Regions from separate parts of the Homo sapiens genome. Here region 2 is linked to region 1. The links come from fine-mapping of genetic effects on gene expression. Tissue or cell type: whole blood. Region 1 holds a variant in brackets; the other region holds the start of a gene. All regions are shown on one strand. Distances are between the middles of the regions.

Region 1 (8,110 bases):
CCTTTCCAGATCTAATATTCCTTGCTTCCATGGGCTTTAGGCAACTGAGGGCCAACCCAGGCACAGTAAGAACTTGGCCCAAGAGCCTTGGATCCACGGCCAAAATGGCAGCAGCCACACAAATCCTGGGGATACAGCTGCTCCACTGTCTGTTCCACCTGGAAAACTCTACTTTGACCAGGTTTCACTGACATAGTATTTCGGAGAATGATTCCCCACTCCTACTTTCTTCCTCCTTACACTCTCAAAGAGTGGGGTGCAGCTGCTCCTACCACTGTTACGTTGTGTTTTTATCTATTTTCATTTTGCTTTTGTGCCTGGAAACAGTTTGCGCTGAGGATTACACTTTCAAAACGAAATGTCGCCATTATCTAATCCCAGTTGAATGAGTCCCTCTGTGAATCACACTGCAGGTCCATTTTAAATTAACCAGCTACCAGGAATGATTGGCAAAAAAAGTAGGCCATGTAGGCTGGGGAGCAGCTGCCTACAGATTGGCAACAGCTGAGTACAATGAGTCATACACACAAGGAGGCCTGCAAGGTGTGACCTTGCTTGGATGCCACACAAGGACACAGAGCCAGCTCAGCATCACAGAGGAGCTCAGCACAGGGCACTCCCAGAGCTTACCACTAAGGGAAACAAGGAGAGTTAGCTGGGAAAGATGACAGGTTTCAGCATCAACTTTCTCCATCACAAGGAAAGACAGGTCAATTCTACACTTCCAAGGAGCAGAGACTCTAAGAGGCCTGTTCAGACTTGAAAGAATAGTAAGGATTGTTTGGAGCAGAGTAGCAGGATCTCAGAGGGTCATGCCTCTTTGATGTTGGTGTGGGTGTCCTCAACTCATCTGTCTTAGTCTGTTCAGGCTGCTATGATAAGATAGCTTAGATTGGGTAATTTAAACAGAAATTTATTGCTCACAGTTCGAGGCTGGGTAGTCCAAGATCAAGGCACAGGCTGATTACTCAATCTAGTGAGGGTCCTCTTTCCTATAGATGGTGTCTTCTATTTGTTCTTATATGGGGGAAGGGTCAAACAAGTTCCCTTGGGCCTCTTTTTGTTTAACTAATTAATTTATTGTTTCTCTCCCATCCAGAAAATGTAACTTGGGCCTTTTATAAGAGCATTGATTCCATTCATGAAGGCGGGGCTCTCATGACCTAATCATGCTCCGAAGGCCCCAGCTCTTAATACTTGCATTGGGAATTAGCTATCAACATGAATTTGGGAATTATCTATCAACATGAATTTAGGGGTGTGGTGTTATGAGATTATACATACATATATAGATAGATAGAGGTCTGTGCATGGTTCCTGGCTCATAACTCCCATATCCCTGATTATAGTCTTTTCTTATCATGGTAAGTATGTTTGACCTCAGGAAACAATATTGGACTTTCTCCTGCTCTCCTTTCACCTGACAAGGCAGAACTTTAATTTCCCCCGCCTTTCTGATTGTGGGTCATAAGACACTTCCCAGAGAGAGTCCTTCCCTGTGCCCCTGGGGGATGGAATGTTGATGTCTTGAAGTTTCCATAAAAACCCAAAAGGCCTGGGTGCGGTGGCTCACGCCTGTAATCTCAACACTTTGGAAGGCTGAGGTGGGCAGATCACCTGAGGTCAGGAGTTCAAGACCAGCCTGGACAACATGATGAAACCCCATCTCTACTAAAAATACAAAATTAGCCGGGCAGGATGACGCATACGTGTAATCCCAGCTACTTGGAAAGCTGAGGCAGGAGAATTGCTTGAACTTGGGAGCAGAGGTTGCAGTGAGCCAAGATCATGTCACTGCCCTCTAGCCTGGGTGATGACAGAGCAAGACTCCGTCTCAAAAAAAAAAAAAGTACAAGAAGACTAGGTTTTGAGAGCTTCCAGATAGTCAAACACTTGGAGGTTCCTAGAAGGTGAAGTTCCCAAGGAAGAGCATGGAACCCTTTCCCATATACCTCATCCTGTGCATCTCATCATCAGTATCCTTTGCAATATCCTTTATAATTATCTGGTAAACATAAGTGTTTCCCTGAGTTCTGGAAGCCACTCCAGGAAATTAATAGAACCCAAAGAGAGGGTTGTGGGAACCCCAACTTGAAACTGGCCGCTCAGAAGTTCCAGAGACCCGAACTTGTGACTGGTGTGTGTGGTGGGGTTGGGAGGGGCAGTCTTGGGGACTGAGCCCCTTACCTGTGGGATATGACCCTCTCTCCGGGTAGACAGTGTAAGAACTGAATTAAAGACACAGCCGGTGTCCACTGCTTGATGTATGGGGAAAAAACTCCACACATTCGGTCACAGAAGTCTTCATCTGAGTTGATGATTGTTGTTGACGTGGTGTGAGAAGAGACAGAAAACCCAGTTTGGGAGTTTCCCTTAATAGCGAGGACACAAACATTCAAATCATAGCCCCATCTGAGAATGCTCATGTAAATACAAATTTGATGAATCAGTGGAAGCCTCCTGGTACTTTTTGGGGTCTGGGACTTGTCAGAAGCATAGGGTCTGGTGTTTGAGCTAAACATCAGAGGGCTGGATTTAATTGTTTTAAGGCCCTGGCCCAAGGAATCAAGTCAAAATAATATGTTCAGATTCAAGACTGGTTGATTTGATTTCTAAAAACAAGGTAATATGCATGTGGATGTTTCCAAATCACATAAGCTATCTGTGCAGTCAGGCATTTGGATTCTTGATGTTCTAAGGAATAATAATAATAGCTGCTATTATATTTATCACTTACCCCCTGTAACCATGTCCCAAATCTTTCATCCCATTTGATCCTCACAAGCATTCTGCAAGATCTTGGTATTACATCCTTTTTACAAATGACAAAACAGCTGGGCACGGTGGCTGATGCCTGTAATCCCAGCACTTTGGGAGGTGGAGGCGGGCAGATCACGAGGTCAGGAGATCGAGACAATCGTGACTAAGACGGTGAAACCCCGACTCTACTAAAAATACAAAAAATTAGCCGGGCGTGGTGGCGGGCGCCTGTAGTCCCAGCTACTCGGGAGGCTGAGGCAGGAGAATGGCGTGAACCTGGGAGGCGGAGCTTGCAGTGAGCCGAGATCGTGCCACTGCACTCCAGCCTGGGCAACAATGCGAGACTCCATCTCAGAAAAAAAAAGAAAACACACACACACACACACACACCAATGACAAAACATTCAGAAAGGGTAGATATTTGTACAAGTCAAATGACTGATCTGTGTGCCTGGTGTTGGCACTCAGATCAGTCGTATTCCAGAGCGTGTGCTCTCAACAAAGTCAATGGTTATCAAGGTTTGAATGATCCCAGGTCTTCAGGAAAGAGAACGCAGTTACCTGTTGTGTAAGAGTACAATGGTGAGCTGGTGGGTTCTCTCCTTATTGCTCCCTGCAGTGTCGTAGGGTGGGTTTCTGCTGGCTGAGGTGAAGATGGTGAAGTGGCTACTGGAATGAAAAGAATGGAAGAATTGTTCCATTTGTGGAGGAAAATGTGCACCCCAAGAAAAATAAAGAACAAAACTAGAATCAGGAATTACCATCACCTTTCCATGGGCCCTTCTCCTGGCCTTCCACAGTGGGCATGCAGGGCTTCTACCGACCCACTTCTGAACCTTTCGGCTCCTCTTAGAAATGTATTCAAAGATGGCCTTCAGGCATTGCCCTGCTATCTAATTATCTCATTAACATGAGGAAATGCGATCTAGATAATGTTCCACATAGTCAATATATACGATTATCTCAAACTTTCTATACTCCCAGGTTCCCTCTAAATAGACAAAGCCAACAACAGGGCATTTTATGTAGAATACCCAATTAAGCTTTATTTTATTCATACAAGTGATATTTCACTTTCAGAAAATGGGGGCTTAGGAATTTGCACTAACATGCCCTACCCCCTTCACAACAGCCCCATTCTGGGTTTCCTGGCCTTACTCAAGTTCAATTATCCACACATCTAATAACTAACAGAGAATAGATACAATATTAATTCCTTGAGGTCTCTTAAAGCTGACAATATTGCCCAATGTCAGCCTTGGTAATGATTTACAACCCTAAAGGTAAGGTTCCTGGCAGGACCTGACCCCAGCTCCTTCTGCATCTGCATTCTAGTCATTCCTTTAGGGGTGATTTCCTGTGTTTTCTGACTCATCTTACACTTCTCACGGTAAAGCTTCCATTAGGAATTCTCCAGCATAGGGCTACATTCCCCTTTCCTTTCCTGAAATCCCTCCTTTATTTCCTATCAGATATCTCACCTTATTTGCAAAGTTGATCACTTGCCTCTTCACAAAGCATTTACATGATTCCCTTCTCTTAGAGCACCACAGAAATTTAGAGTCAATTAGTGACGGTGACTGGATGAATTCCCAAACCTGGCTTTCCTTATTGCCTCTCACTGGTCTGTTTCTCTTTCTCCACCACAGTCTCAATAACTTCACTTTTCAACATCGCTCTTTCTCCTGTTCTCAACTTTTTCCTGTTTTCCTCTAGTGCTCAAACCTGTAAGAGGATGTGGCTCTCTTTCGGAACGAAAAACAGAACAACACAGGAGAGTCACGTGGGCAGTCTGTACCCAATTGAGTTCTGTGCAAAAGATCTCTTGAGCTTAACTTCTTTCCTAAGTTTGGGTCCTTATGGCATCTTTCTTTTCTCCACTGCTCCTACAACCATACATACAATTGTTCCC[T/G]GGAGTTTTAGGCAGCAAGCAGGTACTAGGGGCACTGAGCAGGGAAGATTGGATGCAAAGATAAATGTCCCTGCGTTCTATTTGCTCCAGGGTTCTCTCATTCCTGGACTGTAATGTTCAACTCATGCAAACTCTTTAGAGAACTATCCAGATAAGAATAACCTCAAGTGATACCATCCTCCAAGTTATAGCCATATAAACCAACTCTTAGGAGAAAGGCAACTTTCTCCCATATCTCGGCTTTAAATGAAATCAGTGACTTGGGGATGTTCTCCAAAACCAGTCCACTAATCCATCCACCTTAGCAGACACAAGCTAAGTATTAGAAAGTGAAATCAACATTGAGAAAGTCTAACAGACTCTCTAGTGTGTGCGGCTGCCTGGAACAAAACTGTTTTTCTTACAAAACTTTTATGGCTCTAAAATCCCAGGTATGACCTAATTAACACCCTCTATTTCAAACTGAGCTACTAGCCCAACCCTTCAGATCTCTCCTGGTTAAACACACAATTCAATGGCAGTCAAGGGAAATCAATATGTTCCATCAGATTTTTCCAGCTAAGAGGCTGCGACATTTGTTACTCCTCAGAATCCAGAGCCACCCTAAGGGGTCAATGGATTTCTGAGGGCTTTGAGAATCTCCACTAAAAGTTATCTTTTAAATCCCGAAAATGGAAGATTTGAACCTATACTTGTCCTCAGAATGACAAGCTATTTCCCTACCTATAAGTCAAGTTATCCTCTATTTGTATTAAATCTAATGTCTTATTTACAGGGAATTTGAAGTATCAACTATATGGCCTGAACTGAAAAAAATAAACTGTACATTCTAAATCCCTAAAGCCCTTAAATCCAATGTTACTTTTTCCTAAGTATAAATCACACCTTTTGCAATTTCCACTGTACATAAATAAATTAAAGGACCTTTGAAGTAAAAATGTGTAAGTCATTGACTACCCTGAAAAGACAGTGTGGTTGTTTAAGGGTTTTTTTCAGTAAAAATGTTAGATCAGGGCAAACTCATCCAAACATAAAACTCAGTGCTGATAATAGGAGGCATGATCCAGTAGTTAAAAGTACTGGCCCTATTTCAAGCTAACAGAGATCAAAACGTGACTCGACCACTTTCTATCTGTGTAAATTTCTTTTTTCTTTCTCTTTTCTTTCTTTTTCACTCTGTTACCCAGGCTAGAGTGCAGTGGTGCAATCATGGCTCACTGTAGACTTGACCTCCCGGCCCCAAGCGATTCCTCCACCTCAGCCTCCCAAGTGGCTGGGACTAGAGGCATGCACCACCATGTAGAGACAAGGTCTCTCACTATGTTGCCCAGGCTGGTTTTGAACTCCTCGGCTAAAATTACAGTCATGAGCCACCGCACCTGGCTTCTATCTGTGTAACTTTCAACAATGAACTTTTAGACTCTGTCTCAGTTCTAACAATTATAAACCACACCTACAGTGGATATAATTATCCTAAGAATTAAATGCATGAGGCATGGTGCCTGGTAGATAGAAAACAGTAAATGTTAACTTCTCTGAAATCAAGGTCTGCTTTCAGAATGGACTAAATGATCTCTCTTCAGAGCTCTTCGTGAGGACACTATCTCATTTATCTGACCTTGGTTCTCTGGCATTCCCTGTGTTTTCATCATAAAGCCATACCTAGCTGAGTCAGATCCACAGTATCCCTGTTAGATGTTCTACATCCGTGGTCCAGCTATTTTTGGTTAATAATCAATTTCTTTGAGAATTGACAAAAAGCAATGGGTCCCCTCACTCCAAAAATGCTCATTGGTGCAAAAGACGCATACAACTTGGGAGTTGGGGAGGATCACAAACCCTGAGGAGACCCTGATTGAAACCCAGGTAAGACCCCTCACTCTAGACTGTCCTTCTACCTTGATACAATGCCCTGGATGGTCCGCAGCTCCTCATTAGAAGGCCTTTGGGCTTCCAAACACATCTGTTTTACCTGGTTCATGGTTCTGCCTGGGCAAAGGCATTGGAGGAACAAAGGTAGAGACAGTTGTTGTCACTGGAACACTTGTTGTTGTTGGAATGCTCGTTGTCGTTGGAACGCTCGTTGTCGTTGAAACAGTCATTGTCGTCAGAACAGTCGTTGTCGTTGGAATGCTCATTGTTGTTGGAACAGTTGTCGTTGGAACAGTCGTCATTGGAACAGTCGTTGTCGTTGGAACAGTGGTGCTCGTTCGAACAGTCGTGACGGTTGGAACAGTTGTGACAATTGGAGTAGTCGTGACCTTGGCTGGAGTCAGAAATCAACATGAGAGTGAGCATAAGTCAAACAAGAAACAAGAGCCTCAGGCTGGAACTGTACCCTAGCACACCAATGACAGACTGTCCCTAGGTGGAGTTAACTTCCTGAACTGTCAATCTTGGTCATTGCCCAGCTAGAAACTGTGACAGGAGAGGGCCTTGGAGACATACCCCTCCTTCCAAAAGAAAAGCAGATGTATTGAAAGGTGCATGCATATTCAGCAAATAAGAACAGACGCCTCATATTTGCACTGAAGCACTTTTTTGGGGGCAGGGTCTCACTCTGTCATCCAGGCCGGACTGCAGTGGCATGATCAACTCACTGCTGCCTCGAACTCCCAGGCTGAAGCAATCCTCCTGTGTCAGCTTCCCAAGTAGCTGGGACTACATGCAGGCATCACCACACCCGGCTAATTTTTAAAAAAACTTTTTTTGTAGAGACTGGGCGTGGTGGCTCACGCCTGTAATCCCAGCACTTTATGGGGCCAAGGTGGGTGGACTACTTCAGCTCAGGAGTTCAGAGTTCCAGACCAGCCTGGGCAACAGGTGAAACCCCATCTCTACAAAAAATAGTCAAGTGTGATGACACATGCCTGAAATCTCAGCTACTTGAAAGGCTGAGGCATAAGGATTGATGAACCCCAGAGGTGGAGGTTGCAGTGAGTAGAGACTGGGCCACTGCACTCCAGCCTGAGAAACAGAGCGAGACCCTGTCTTAAAAAAAAAAAAGAAAAAAAGAATTGACCTCATCTTGCTCACCCTTATAAGGGAAACAATCCAAGTCCAAAAGCTAAGAGACTGCAAATTAAAATTCCTCTTAATTAAAACGAAAATAGAGACATAGCTTATTAAGGTCGTAGGTATTGGGTTCTATTATCATTGTAAGACCTTAGTGGAAGAAGATTCATTAAGAAACAGCAACGGCCGGGCGCGGCAGCTCACGCCTGTAATCCCAGCACTTTGGGAGGCCGAGGCGGGTAGACTGCCTGAGGTCAGGAGTTTGAGACCAGCTTGGCCAACATGATGAAACCCCATCTTTACTAAAAATACAAAAATTAGCCAGGCATGGTGGTGCGCACCTGTAGTCCCAGCTACTCAGGAGGCCGAGGCAGGAGAATTGCTTGAACCCAGGAGGCAGAGGTTGCAGTGAGCTGAGATCGC
Region 2 (8,110 bases), 87 kb before region 1:
AGTATGGCAGGAACAACATCCATTAAGCTCACATTGTAAACCCCATTCTGCCATTTACTGCTTTTGTGTTGTTGGAGGAAAGCCATGATAATCCTGACCTCATTATCATCACAAGGCAAAGGGGATAATACTCACCTCAGAAATGGTTCTGAGCTCCACTTGAAGAGGAGTAACAAATGCCACGTGAAATTAACAAAGTATTAATACGCGTAACAAAGGACATTAGAATTTAGAAATAAGACAAAAAAAAATGGTTCCTGTCTGTTGTAAAAGTATCCCTGAGTAAAGCAATTGTTGGTATCAAACCAGTTTCACTTCTGTGGAGCTACCTGGAATGGTGGATACAACCTAGGTCCTTATGCCAGCTTGGTTCCTTCCATAGCTGGTGAGCTTAAGCAAGGCTGGCCCTTCCCCAATCTGAGTCTCAAAATTGCCATCTACAGAGTGAAGGGCATCTTTTAAGAGTACATCCAGCTCTGATCCTTGGTGATTCTGAGCAGTCACTCTCTTTTAATTTGGTTATCTTAGAAAAGGCACATATAGGCCGGGTGTGGTGGCTCACACCTGTAATCCCAGCACTTTGGGAGGCTGATACAGGTGGATCACCTGAGGTCAGGAGTTCAAGACCAGCCTGGCCAAATATGGTGAAACCCTGTCTCTACTAAAAAATACAAAAAATTAGCCAGCTGTGGTGGCGGGCGCCTGCAATCTCAGCTACTTGGGAGGCTGGGGCAGGAGAATTGCTTGAGCCTGGGAGGCAGAAGTTGCAGTGAGCCGAGATTGCACCATTGCACTCCAGCCTGGGCATTGGAGTGAGACTCTGTCTCGAAAAAACCCAAAAATATTTTGAAAAACAAAAGAAAAAAGAAAAGGCACCTATGAAAAAAAAAACAAAATAAAACAAAAAACAGCTCACCAGGTGCTGCCTCCTTCAAGCAGGATTAGAAAATTCCCCTCAACCAGTGTCTTGCTAGTAGCAGGACATGTAGACATAGACCCCTGCAACTTTCAACCTAACAAAACCTTCCAAACTTCAAGTTTCCAGGATAAGACAAAGACAGTAAAAAAAAATTGATGAAAAGGCAGATGGTAGCTTTCTTACATCCAAACAAACCCATACCAAACCCAAAATATAAGTGTGAAAGTGACAGGGACTGCTTTCATTCTGTAGATTGTTTTTTTCTTCCCCCTTTTTTTTTTTTTTTTTTTCAGAAAGAGTCTCACTCTGTCACCCAGGCTGGAGTGCAGTGGTGCAATCTCGGCTCACTGCAACCTCTGCCTCTCTAGTTCAAGCGATTCTCCTGCCTCAGCCTCCTGAGTAGCTGGGATTACAGGCACATGTCACCACGCCTGGCTAATTTTTATATTTTTAGTAGAGACGGGGTTTCACCATGTTGGCCAGGCTGGTCACAAATTCCTGACCTCGGGTGATCCACCAACCTCGGCCTCCCAAAATGCCAGGATTATAGGCATGAGCCACCACCCCTGGCCTGTAGATTGTTTCTTCAGTGCCTATAATGTATCAAGGGTGGAACTAGGTGCTGGAATATAACAAGCCACAAAGCAGACCTGGGCTGCCCTCATGGGGCCTGCAGAGTACCTAGGAAGATAGTCAAATGAGTGAGCATTTGCTATAGAGTGACAAGTTTACAGATGCAGGAACTCCAAGGAGGATGCGAACTCATAGCAGAAACACCTGAACTATTCCAGAGGCTACAAGGTAGCCAGGAAAAGCCTGAATTAAGTAGGGACCTGAGGATGCATGGCACTACGGAGGAAAGAAAGGCAGAGAGAATAGTACAAGTTTGAGAGGTGATGAAACACATTTGTTTTCCTTCAAATATGGGTGTTTTCTCATGCACCATGTTGGAAAGGTTTCTGCACATACAAAGAGCCAAGAGGTAGAAGAAAAAATGTTTAACATTGCTAATCACTGGGGAAATGCAAATCCAAACCACAATGAGGTATCACTTCATTTCTGATAAAATGGCTACTATCAAAAAGACAAAAAGCAAGCATTGCTGGCGAGGACGCAAAGAAAGAGGAACTCTCGTACGCTGTTGGTGGGAATGTAAATTACTACAGCCATTATGGGAAACAGTATGGTGATTCCTTAAAAAACTAAAAATAGAATTACCATATGATCCAACAATCCCACTACTGGGGATATATCCCAAAGAAAGGAAATCAATTAAAGAGATATTTACTCTCCCATGTTTATTACAGCACTATGCACGATAGCCAAGATATAGAAGCAACCTACGTGTCCATCAATGGATGAATGGATAAAGAAAATGTGGTATATGGCCAGGTGCGGTGACTCACGCCTATAAGCCCAGCACTTTGGGAGGCCGAGGTGAGTGGATCGCCTGAGGTCAGGAGTTCAAGACCAGCCTGACCAATATGGTGAAACCCCGTCTCTACTAAAAATACAAAAATTAGCCAGGCATGGTGGCAGGCGCCCATAGTCCCAGCTACTTGGGAGGCTGAGGCAGGAGAATGGCGTGGACCCAGGAGGCAGAGCTTGCAGTGAGCCGAGATAGAGATAGTGCCACTGCAGTCCGGCCTAGGCAAAAGAGCGAGACTCCGTCTCAAAAAAAAAAAAAAAAAAAAAAAAAAAAGAAAGAAAAAAAAAAAGAAAATGTGGTATATAAACACAGTAGAATATTCAGCCATAAAAAAAGAATGAAACTCAGTCATTTGCAACAACATGGATGGAAACAGAGTTTATTAATATTGTGTTAAGTTAAGCTAGGCACAGAAAGACAAATATTGCATGTTCCCACTCATACATGAGAGCTAAAAAAGTTGATCTCATGAAAGTGGAGAATAGAATGATAGTCACTGGAGTCTACAAAGGATAGGGGAAAAGGGGTATGAAGAAAGGCAGGTTAATGGGTACAAAAATACAGTTAGTTAGAACATGAGGAAAAAGGGAAAAAATACAATTAAATAGAAGGAATAAGTCCTAGTGTTTGATAGCATAGTGGGGTGCCTATTGTTATTAATAATTTCTTGTGTATTTCAAAATAACTAGAAGAGAACATTTGAAATGTTCTCAGCACAAAGAAATTTAAATGTTTCAAGAAATGAATATCCCAACTACCCTGATTCGATCATTGTACATTGTATGTATATATCAAAATAACACATATGTAGCCCATAAATATGTATAGTTATTTTGTATCCATTTAAAAAAAAAATGGACTTTTGTAAAACTGCAAGGGCCATTCAATATTATCTTGTCCTAGAAGCACAGATTGTGACAACTGGTCATTTAAAAAGCCAGGTCTCTCATTTCAAATATGGGAGAGCCAGAGCAATTTAGACATATTCCCAGTGTCAACAGTTAGTGCCCGAGACGCAGCTGCAGCTCAGGCCAGAACACTTGGCTCTATACCACCAGGATGCAAAGAACTTCACTGGCCAAAACTGAGTGTGTACACTTGCATCATCCAAAACCCAAAAACAACGTGCAGAAAAGAAACCTTACATAAAGCCTCACCCCAGCAAAACAAAACAAAAAGCAAACACTTCTAAAAACAGAGGGAATGATAAGAATTATCACAATTCTCACCAGAACAAATTCTCCTGGCTTATTGATTATATGAATAACACCCATAGAGGAAATCTCTTTTCCCCAATTTATCTGACCACTTATTTCTGTGTCTCTTCTTCAGTTGCTGTTTCCAATATAAGCCCAAATTACCCCAGCCTAAAACCCCCAGACCAGTCTCTGGATAAACCTCTGTGTAACAAGGCAGGACAGAGACCCTCCACAGAAGGAAGCCTGGTAGGGAGAGGGGAGGGATGCAGAAATGAAGTGAGCTTCTGCTTCACTGAGGCCCAAACCAGTGCATGGAAATCCATCACACAATAGCAAGTCCTCTGGAAACTTCTACATAGAAGGTTTCAGAACACTTACTCAGGTAAAGCCACCAAAACTCAATCATCAGCCAGAGAATGAGAGGTTCTTTGGACATTTTGACGGTTGACCGGACCCAGGAGTCTGTCTATCTATCCAAAGCCCAACCTCTTATATCCCAGTTAATGCTGACAGGGTGGGACTCTTTAGTTTCATTTCTCTTTTTGCCTCATAATCTTCCCTTTCTCCTGTCCTACATGGCTTCCCCCAATGGGCGATGCATGATGAAATGTGCTGAGCCCTTTTCTCCTGGTGACTAGTGTGTGTGTGGAGGGATGGCGTGGACATACTTGTGCTTCTTTGTCCATGTGTATAGTGGGTTTCCTATATGTGCACAAGCATCCATGCATGTGCTGGTGCAAATATGCCTGTATAACCTGTGCATGTGCCACAGTTGTCCCAACTGCTGTACAGCCTGTCACAAAGTGCAATTGACTCTCCATACTGGCAAGTGTTTACATGTAGATTCCTCATGGGGCCAAAGCATAGTTAGACTGAAAGTTGCCTCCATTCCCATTCTAGGTTCTCCCTCACCCTGTCCCCTGGCCTCCTTGCCCTAATAATGGAGAAAGAAAAGTGAGGACAGGCACAGTGGCTCACACCTGTAATCCTAGCACTTAGGGAGGCCGAGATGGGAGGATCGCTTGAGGCCAGGAGTTTGAGACCAGCCTGATCAACATGGCGAAACCCCATCTCAATTTTTTATTTAAAAAAAAGTTTAATAAAAAAATTAAATTTTTTTTTAAGTTTTAGGAAGACACTGAAGCCCAGAACTTCCTGATTCCAAAGCTTATGGTTAATCACTACATTGTCCTTTGACCTGTGACCGTTTGGGTAATGTATCCATATGATGAGGCCTACCTGTGGCTAGCTCCTACTTAGTACCAGGAAGAAAATATAAGAATTCACAAATGTTCTAGATTTTTAAAAATCCTTAATTGATTGTAAACAGCCAGCAAACCTCAAACATTCAACATTGCTTCTACTGAAGGTATCAGTGAAAAATCTAAATATCAGGTGAGGTTCTAGACCCAGAGAAGCCAGACTAACATGAGCAGGGATGAAAATAACGGGATTCAGAGTGAATCTTCCCACTGAATGCCCACAGAACCAAGGGATCCTTTCCCCATTCTATCCCAGGAAACTGGAGGATTTAATCTCTGGATAAACTAAGTGGTCCCAATAAAACATTTTCAGATATTTATAGTTTTGAGTGTTCCCCAACAAAACCACTCAACCCTCCTTCAATAAGTTCATCAGTGCATGAGCCTCAGCCATGCATGCAGAACTGTTAATGAGTCTTTAGTGTCCCTTTCAGATATGAACAGATAACCAGGGATCATCAGACATTTGAGGAAAGCATTTAACATAAAAAAGAGACAAAAATAACAGGGAGAGCTAAAGAGAACTTCAAAAACTTTTTAAAAAGCTAATATTTTCTCAGAAAGAAAGATTTTACATTCATGAAAAAGAACATAGACATTATAAAAATGTCCCGAATTTTATGGAAGTTTTGAAAAATAAAGTTAAGAAAATTTGTTAGAAATTATAACCATCTACAAAGTCAAAGGACTAGGATTGTTTCAGAACATTAAAAAAGAAAATAGAGGAGAGGAAATTACTAAAGAAATAATAAAGGAAAGACTCTCGTAACTAAAGGAGATGACTCTCAGTATTGAGCGGGTCAATCAAATGCTAAACTCAATGAATAAAAATATCCCCAAAAAGCAAGACATTATCATGTAATATGAGAACATCAGACATAAAGAAAAGATACGAAAAGACTCCAGAGAGAAAGAACAACATATTGCACTGAATGGATTTGGAAATAGAATGGCATTGTTGTTCCAAACAACAAAGCTAGAAAATAATGCACGAATGCCTTCAAAATTCAGAGGGAAGGCCGAGTGTGGTGGCTCACATCTGTAATCCCAGCATTTTAAGAGGCCAAAGTGGGTGGATCACTTGAGTCCAGGAGTTCCAGAATAGCCTGGGCAACATGGTAAAAACCTGTATCAGCCGGGCGTGGCGGCTCACGCCTGTAATCCCAGCACTTTGGGAGGCCAAGACGGGCAGATCATTTGAGGTCAGGAGTTCAAGACAAGTCCCAGCAACATGGCAAAACTGGTCGCTACTAAAAATACAAAAATTAGCTGGGTGTGGTGGTGCATGCCTGTAATCCTAGCTACTTGGGAGGCTGAGGCAGGAGAATCACTTGAACCCAGGAGGCAGATGTTGCAGTGAGCTGAGATCATGCTACTGCACTCCAGCCTGGGTGACAGAAGGAGACTCCATCAAAAAAAAAAAAAAAAAGAGGAAAAGAAAATCTATATCTGCCAAAAATACAAAAAATTGGCCGAGTGTGGTGATGCGCACCTGTGGTCCTAGCTACTCCAGAGGCTGAGGTGGGAGGATTGCTTGAGCCCGGGAGGTGAAGGTTGTAGTGAGCTGAGATTGTGCCACTGCACTCCAGCCTGGAAAACAGACAGAGAACCTGTGTCCAAAAAAAAAAAAAAAAATCCAGAGGAGAAATTTAATTTCAACCTAGAATCCTACTCGCAGACAATCTATTTCTCAAATGTAAGATCATAATAAAGGCCTTTTTGGACATAGATTCAAAATTTACTTACTATACTTCCTTTCCTAGAAGTTATGGAAGAGAAATCTGTAGCAAAACGGGAGAAATAACCAGGAAACAGAAAGTCATGGGGTCCAGAAAACATGACATCTAACTCCAGGGAAGAAAAATTTCACAAAGAAAACTGCAGAACAGACCTAGAGGGGAACTGTTTCACTGCATCACAAACCACCCCAAAACCTAGTGCCTGAACAATGTCAATGTACTTTTCATGATTCCCTGGGATGACAGTGTTCAGCTGGGTAGCTCTCACCCAGTGACAGTGGCTATCTCAAGACTAGATTGGACTATTTGTCCAAGATAACTTTCTCACTCACATGACTGATCATCCAAAATGACACTTCTAGCTGGACTTGTATGTCTAGCAAATTAATAGAATGACTAGAAGAGATAGGGGCTGGACTGACAACTGTCTCTCTCCACATGACCTTTCTACATGGAAGCTTGGGCTTCCTTACAGTATGGTGGTCTCAGAGTAGTTGGATTTTTTACATAGGATCTGGCTTTCTCAAAAATTAGCATTCCAACATGCTCAGGAATAATCCACAAAGGTTCTTATGACCTAGCCTTAGGTAACATTCAGTATCATTTTTACAGTATTTTATTGGTCAAAAGGCAAATTATAAGGCCATCCCAGAGAATTCAAGTGGAGGGAGCAATACAAGGATGTGAATGCGAGGAAGTGTGGTTCATTGGAGTGGTAGGGGAAGCATCTTTGGAGAATAATTACTTTAATAACCACCTCAGGCTGGGGCAGAAGAGCAGAGGAATAAGCCTTGGGGTGGTGGTAGTGAGTGTCACGAATAAGCTCATGTACTTAGGTAATTTGAAAATAACTTTGATAGGTGTTTGGCAGATATGATGGAATACTTGGGATGAATTTTTTTTTTTTTTTTTTTGAGACAGGGTCTTGCTCTGTTGCCCAGACCGGAGTGCACTGGTATGAACATGGCTTAGTAAAGCCTCAACCTCCAGGCTCAAGCAATCCTGTTGCCCCAGTCTCCCAAGTAGCTGGAACCACAGGTGTGCCTCCACACCCAGCTAATTTGTTTAAATTTTTGTAGAGGCAGGGTCTTGCCATGTTGCCCAGGCTGGTCTCAAACTCCTGGTCTCAAGTGATCCTCCCATCTCAGCCTCCCAAAGTGCTGGGATTATAGGCATGAGCCACTGCCCACAGCCATGGGATGAATTTTTGATGGATACTTGGGAAATTAAGAAAAAAACACAATGAAGGCTGGGTGCAGTGGCTCACGCCTGTAATCCCAGCACTTTGGGAGGCAGAGGCAGTTGGATCACTTGAGGTCAGGAGTTCCAGACCAGCCTGGCCAACATGGAGAAACCCCATCTCTACCAAAAATACAAAAAGTTGCTGAGTGCAGTGGCACATGCCTGTAATCCCAGTTACTTGGGAGGCTGAGGTGGGAGAATCCCTTGAACCAGGGAGGTGGTGGTTGCAGTGAGTCAAGATCATGCCACTGCACTCCAGCTGGGGTGACAGAGCGAGACTCCGTCTCAAAATAACAAACAAACAAACAAACAAACAAAAA

The links. PIP is the estimated chance that this variant, and not a neighbour inherited with it, causes the effect.
Region 2: TIMD4 starts here. The variant in region 1 is fine-mapped to the expression of TIMD4 in whole blood (TOPMed, PIP 0.98).

What each region holds. Positions count from the first base shown.
Region 1 is chr5:157,045,717-157,053,826 of GRCh38, forward strand. It overlaps HAVCR1 (hepatitis A virus cellular receptor 1), which reads right to left. Exons shown (of 9, transcript NM_001173393.3): 4 at 6,645-6,938; 5 at 3,322-3,429. Among named protein-coding and RNA genes, the nearest start is that of HAVCR1, 9.3 kb to the right of the region's middle. RefSeq lists an enhancer at 4,428-4,987. The variant T/G (reference allele first, on the strand shown) is at 4,673.
Region 2 is chr5:156,959,216-156,967,325 of GRCh38, forward strand. TIMD4 (T cell immunoglobulin and mucin domain containing 4) reads right to left here and starts at 4,011. Exons shown (of 9, transcript NM_138379.3): 1 at 3,926-4,011. The coding sequence starts at 3,983.